Linked DNA regions of Homo sapiens. The protein of the gene in region 2 purifies or fractionates together with the protein of the main gene of each other region. This does not show direct contact. Each region holds a gene or a part of one and is shown on either strand. Other genes may lie near its edges.

The links.
Region 1: the proteins of SAAL1 (region 2) and SLC27A2 purify together in Homo sapiens (co-immunoprecipitation; 3 studies listed by BioGRID and IntAct, with this or other methods). This does not show direct contact.

The regions. Positions count from the first base shown.
Region 1 is NC_000015.10:50,185,101-50,188,759, forward strand, and holds part of SLC27A2 (long-chain fatty acid transport protein 2), read left to right. Parts: intron 1-3,659. UniProt on the Homo sapiens protein: Mediates the import of long-chain fatty acids (LCFA) into the cell by facilitating their transport across cell membranes, playing an important role in hepatic fatty acid uptake.
Region 2 is NC_000011.10:18,092,428-18,096,086, forward strand, and holds part of SAAL1 (protein SAAL1), read right to left. Parts: intron 1-3,659. UniProt on the Homo sapiens protein: Plays a role in promoting the proliferation of synovial fibroblasts in response to pro-inflammatory stimuli.

The sequences.
Region 1 (3,659 bases), on a different chromosome or scaffold from region 2:
CACAGGGTTTGGAGTTTTGTTGACAAAGAAGTTCAGGATTAAATGACCATAATACAGTTTGATTCTGCAATAAAGTCAGAATTACAACCAGATACCCTCTTCCCACCCAGCTAACAGTTGTCTGCCATAGAGCTATGTGTTTACATAGAGAATATATGGGAATTTCTATATTAAACTCAAACGTGAACCAGACTTTACAGTGGACCTAAGGCACTCTCTGGACCGTCAACTGACCTCTGAGGGAGGCCACATATTTGAAAAAAAATCAGTTTTTCCAAATCACTGAGATACCTTTGCACATGAAGCAAAATTACAGTCTGTCACAGAGTTGCATGTTTACTAAACATGCCCATGGGAAAATATGTTGAATGGACTGATTCTTAGAATTCTTTGGTGTTGGAAGGGACCTTAGAGATATTCTAACCCTATAATCCTGTAAGTTTAATGAATGTGTTATACTTTAAAAAAAAAAGTTTACAGAAGAAACTTTAATAAGCCCAAGAATCACCTAGGAAGCTTACTTTTTTTTTTTTTTTTTTTTTTTTTTGAGACGGAATCTCGCTCTTTCGCCCAGGCCAGGCTGCTGTGGCGTGATCTCGGCTCACTGCAAGCTCCACCTCCCTGGTTCACGCCATTCTCCTGCCTCAGCTTCCTGAATAGCTGGGACTACAGGCACCCGCCACCACGCCCGGATAATTTTTTGTATTTTTAGTAGGGGCAGGGTTTCACCGTGTTAGCCAGGATGGTCTTGATCTCCTGACCTCGTGATCTGCCGGCCTTGGCCTCCCAAAGTGCTGGGATTACAGGCGTGAGCCACCACGCCTGGCCGGAAGCTTACTTTTAAAAACATTCTGAGGCTGGACACTATGGCTCACTCCTGTAATCCTAGCACTTTGGGAAGTGGAGGAGGGAGGATCACTTGAGCCCAGAAGTTCGAGACTAGCCTGGGCAACATGATGAAACCCCATCTCTACAAAAAAAAAAAATACAAAAATTAACTGGGCATGATGGTGAGCACCTGTGGTCCCAGTTACTGGGGAGGCTGAGGTGAAAGGATTGCTTGAGCCCGGGAGGTTGAGGCTGCACTGAGCTCTGACTGTGCCACTACACTCCGGCCTGGGTGATAGAGTGAGACCCTGTCTCAAAACAAAAAAATAAAATTTCTGAGATCATCCCCAAAAATGCTGATTCAGTAAGACTATGTTGGGGCCCAGGAATGTGTATTTTTATAAGAAACCCCACCGCCAACCCTAGGTGATTTTGAAACAAATGGTCTGAGGACTAGGCTTTGAGAAACAGTCTAGTTTCCCATTGTTTTTCATTGTTGTTTGTTTGTTTGTTTGTTTGTTTGTTTTTGAGACAGTCTCGCTCTGTTGCCCAGGCTGGAGGTGCCGTGGCGCGATCTCGACTCACGGCAACCTCCGCCTCCCAGGTTCAAGCCATTCTCCTACCTCAGCCCCTCAAGTAGCTGGGACTACAGATGCCCACCACCATGCCCAGCTAATTTTTGTTATTATCAGTAGAGATGGGGTTTCACCATGTTGGCCAGGATGATCTCCATCTCTTGACCTCGTGATCCACCTGCCTCGTCCTCCCAAAGTGCTGGGATTAGAGGCGTGAGCCACTGCTACTGGCCTTCTCATTGTCTTATAGCTGTATAAACAAAGGCCTAGAGGGATGATATGAATTGCCCATGATCAAGTGGATAGTTAGGAACAGAAAGGTAGAGATAGAACCCAAATATTTTTTTCTCACTTACGAGGCACTGTTTATTCTATCACACCATCTTGAACATGATACATAAATGTCAGTTTGATTCCATATTTTGAGTTTCAGCCCAGGGCTTGTGGACTAGTAAGAGCTCTTGAGCTCCATCTGTCAGTCAAATTCTGCAGTATATGTAAAGGACCAGCACAGAGGCATTTATCATGAGGATTGATCCAGTTGTTATGAATTTGGGGGTTTCTTTATAACACTTAACAGGACTCAACCCTATCAGGAATTTCAGTACTCAATTACTCTTTTCAATTTTACTATAGTTACAGAAAGTCAAGACTCATAAACACTTCCCTGAATCAAGCAGCAGCACTGTTTCCCAGAGAATATGACTTTCTCTCTGTTGTACATTTCAGGATCGTTCTCCAGGGCAGGGTATGATCTAGGTAATCACATGGGAAAATTGTCTCCAAGGATAAGAACCTGTATCAATGTTGTAACTAATAAAAGCCACATGGCTGGGCCAGTAGTTTTTCACCCAACTTTCCAAATACAGAATATGGGTAAAACAGTAAAACATATTTTATTTCACACAATATGGGATATTTTATAAAAACCTACAAAAGAGGCCTGAAATTGTACATTTGTTCCATTTCCATTTATCCTAGCATCAAGACCATCAATAAACTAGCTCTTCCACTGGGTAGATAACCCAGGTCTCCTGAGGGTCCCTTCATCAGCTCACTGGCAGGGTATACACTGCCTAACTCAACACAGCCATGCGAGGCTCCCACAGTGTAGGCACTACTCTTATGCAAGGCTTTAGTAACAGTTAAAGATACTCTCTGTTGCAAAACTGAGTCCCAGGTAAGTTATAAAACGTTCCAGATTACCTTTGACCTGGTTTTGCAAGGTTGCAGAAAACAAAATTTGACCTCCTTTAAACAATGTGATAAAGGAAAAATGCTTACAATAGCTTTCAAAAATATTGCATCATTAAAAGCTATAAGACTGAAGAACTTCATTACAAAACAAGTGTTGGGACCAAGGATAACCCTTGTCATCCAAACTTTTGAGATTAGATTGAGAAAAACTGATGGTACAACAATTTGATTTTCAAAGCAAGAAACATTTAGAGGGAGGAGAGGCCACCAAAAAAAAAAAAAAAAGGAGAGAGAGTCCCAACAAGGTACAAGCTAGTTTTCTCTGTGCCATGATGGGATGGAGAAATAAGATGAATTAGTTCAAGGATCTTACAGTCCAGTAAAAGAACTAAACCGCATGCACAAATGATTGTGACACCCAGTAGAATGTGCTCAGTGTGCTGGGAGGGCTACAAGTGCTGCAGGAAAACAAGCAGAGGTCAAGAGAAGGCTTTTTGGGGCACTGACTATTGAGCTGAACAAATGCAGTGGGGGAGGGGGCATTCCAGGCAAAAGGAGCACCAGAGGCAGTTCTGATCAGGTGCTTAAAACAGTGAGATGCTTCATTAAAGGATATTGCGATGTAAGAACAATGGCAGTCTGGACCTAATAATAGTCATTTTTTTAAGCTGTTTCCTGAAGGGACAGGAAATGGAAAAAATAGGGACTCAGAGAGTCCAAAGAATGGCCAACAGCAGTGGCCTCACTTCCACAGAAGGAAATATTTAATTTTCTAATGCCAACTTTAGTCCAGAATCAAGGCACAGAAATAATCTAATCTACACTCTTCCCAACTCTTTGGACTGCCCAAGGAGTAACTTAAATGAGTTGTTTCAATGCACTTTGTCTCAAAGGCTTAGAATTCTCTCATATATCTTTGAATAATTCCCTAGTAATGTCTAGCACATAGTAGGCAGGCAGTCAATAAGTGTCTGTTGGGCAGGGCACGGTGGCTCATGCCTGTAATCCCAACACTTTGGGAGGCCAAGATGGGCAGATCACCTGAGTTCAGGAGTTGGA
Region 2 (3,659 bases):
GGCGGAGGGGAGGCAGGATAAAGAAATACATATACTGCCTGTACCCTAACCTTGACAAGCTTACAGTATTTGAGAAGGGATGAAAAACGTAAGAACAAGAAAGGGCAAAGGCAGGAGCTATGCGAGAAGAACTTCTATCGATAAAATGAGTTTTAAATGATTGATAGGAATGAGATATGCAAACAAAAAGACAGACATTCAAATAAGGGGAAAGTATCAGCAAAGGCAGGAAGGGAATCATGTACATGGCGAATACTGTAGACAATAAAGTACTCTGGTTGTGGCACAAAGTGGGTGAACAGCATGAGGTAAATACTGCAGGTATAAAGGACTGAGATTAAGGGCTCTGAATGCCGTGCTGAAGAATTAGACTTAATCTGGGAAGTTATTTGGAATCATGAAGATGCTCAAGGAGGGGAGACAACATACTGAAACAGTATCTTAGGAAGATTACTCTGGTGGCGAAATGCATAATGTATTAGTGTAGTCCCTCTTTATCCATGGTTTCAGTTACCCATGGTCAACCTTGGTATAAAAGTACTAAATAGAAAATTCTAGAAATAAACAATTCATGTTTTAAATTGCATGCCTTTCTGAGCAGCACGATGAAATCTTGCACCGTCTCACCCAGGATGTGAATCATTCTTTTGTTCAACATATCCACACTGTATGTGCTGCCTGCCCATTAGTTACTTAGTAGCCATCTTGGCTATCAGATCGACCATCGGGATATCTCACAGGGCTTGTGTTCATGTCACCCTTATTTTACTTAATAATGACCCCAAAGCACAAGAGTAGTGATGCTGGCAATTTGGATATGCCAAGGAGCCGCCATTAAGTGCTTTCTTTACATGAAAAGGTAAAAGTTCTTGACTTCATAAGAAAAACAAACAAAAATGTATGCTGAGGTTGCTTAGGATCTCTAAGAACAAATCTATCCATGAAACTGTGAAGAAGGAAAAGGAAATTTGTGCATATTATAAATAGGGTTCAGTACTATCCTCGGTTTTAGGCATTGGGGGCCTTGGAATGCAACCCCCAAGGATAAGGGGAGACTAGTGTATAGGGAAAAGAAGTTGAAAAGAACTTAAGAATCTATCTCAGTAATAGTTAATTAATATGTAATAACAGTTTATTACCACTCACGGTGGCCAGGCATTACTCTAAGCATTTTCTGTGTATAATTTCATATAATAACTTAGGTGATAGGTACTAATAGTATCCCCATTTTTTCAGATGAGGAAACTAAGGCACAGAGAAGTTAAGCTACTTGCCTAAGATCTTAAGATCTCCAACTAGAACACGGCAGAGCTCCAGAGCTTGAGCATTTAACCACTATTCCAAACTGCACCTCAGTTATCAAGATGCAAGAGGAGGAGGGCCCTCAGGCATGGAAAAGGATGAAGCTGAGGAAGACTCTCAAGGTGAAAGCAAAATAATCCAGTGTGAGGATAAAGGAGAAAGCAGTTGAACTTGACTCCTAGCTTTCAAGTTGCCTCATTTCCCCATCAGTGATATTGGTCCCGTTGACAGGAAAACTAAAAAAGAAAGTGCATAAAAGGCTACAATGAGTTCAGATGGTACAGTGTTTCCAACCTTGCTGGAACATAAGAATCACTCAGGGAGCTTGTTAAAAATACAGATTTCCAAATCTCATCTCAGATCTACTGAATCATAATTTCCAGGGTAGAGCCTGGAAAGCTATTGTTTACCCAGCATATACCAGGTGACTTTTATGATTAGATAAGTGTGACCATAAATCACTGAGGACATACAGAATTCAGGGTTAGAGAGTACAGCTGACCCTTGAACACAGGTTTGAATGTGTGGGTCCACTCATAGGTGGATTTTTTCTAACCAAACTTGGACTGAAAATACAGTGTCCTCAAGATGCAAAACCTGCACAATATGCAGAGCTGACTTTTCATACACACAGGTTCCACAGAGCTGACTGCTAAATTGAGTATGTGTGGATTTCAGTATGGGGGAATGTCTTGCAACCATCCCCCATGTATACCAAGGGACAACTGTAGAGCGTGCAAGCAGAGAATGCCTGAACAAAGTTGGAGATGTGACATCAGTTATCAGAAGGGAAGTCGAGGCTTTGCTCCTACAGGCAGAGTTGCAACTTAAAGGTGTAAAGAACACATAAGTTCACTAGGAAAATGAATATAATGAGAACAAAGGATCAGGGCCTACACCTTAGAAAAAGTCCATATTCGGGACAGTATAAAAAAGGAAGAAAGAAAAAAGCCAATGAAAGGTGAGAGACGAGTGACTGAAGAGGTCAGAGACGACAGTGAGGTGACACAGGAGCTATAGAAATGGAATTTCAATAAAAAGTGGGTGGTCAAATGTTGGGAAAAGATTAAGAGTGAGTAGGGGCAGAAAAAAACCACATACATTTCCCTTATAAACTAAAGAGGGAATAACTGAACTTCCAATCAAAGATCAAGTTTTTCTTGGCTGTTCACTGGAATCACCTGGGGAACTTTAAAAGCTGCCCAGAGTCTCACACTTGGAGATTCTGCTTTAACTCATCTAGGGTATGGCCTGACCAAGATTTTCAAAAGTTCCCTAGGGTAAAGCTTCTCAGAGTGTGGCAATGCACCAGAGCACCAGCATCACCTGGGAACATATTAGGAATCCTGGACCTACTGGACTAGAAACTCTGGAGGGAGGCTCGGCAATTAGTGATGCGGGGACATGCTTAAGTTTGAGAGTCCCTGTCCCAGGTGATTCTAACATGCAGCCAAGGCTGAGAATCACTGTGGCAGCAGACGGTGGCCAGCGGATATAATACAACAATATGACTAATTCCTAAAAGGTGCCATTCCTGACATAAGCTTATTTCTTTATATACTAGTAGTGAGTAAATATATTTAAGACAGAAAAACTCAGTATAAAAATAGCATAATCATCAAATCTTATATTAATATAAGGAATCAAGGAAAAAACGGTTAATCAGGCCCTAATTCAGAGAGAACATTCTACTTAAATAAGAATTCTAATTCAACATTCAATTTGTAAAAATACACTATGGAATTCTCCATTTTATAATCTGAAAGAGAGGAAATACAGTACAGTGGTTATACTGAAGTCAGGCCTAGGCTGAAATCTCAGCTCCATTCTTTCCTAGCTGTGTGACCCTGAACACATATCTTCACCCAAGATTTAGTTCTTTGAAAGTATACCTCATAGTAGTAAGACCAGGTATTCAGTAAACAGCAGTTTTTCATAATTATAATTATTGAACAGATATTTACTAATCCATGATATGCATAGCACATGGCAATTTAATTGGCAATAAAGCACAGTACACTGCACAGTATATAAAGGCCTCTCCTTTAGTCTTTATCTATTGTTCTTGGCAGTTTACTAACAGCAATGACTACTGAAAGCTTACTTACTTACTTGGGAAGGTGTGGAAGGAAAAGTACCACTGTGAATTAACAGATGCAAATACTGAGAGGGGACAGAAGGCACACAAAGGGAGGCACGGAGACAGCATGAGACAGGGAGTAGAAAGGTCTGGCTAAATCAGAAGGGTTACCTGGCTATCCAGATTTTATGCTGGAAAGATGAGTTAGGTTCAGAGAGTAGAGGTCTTAAGCAGCAGGCTGAGTTTAGAATGGTTTTCAAGCAATGGTGGATTTTGT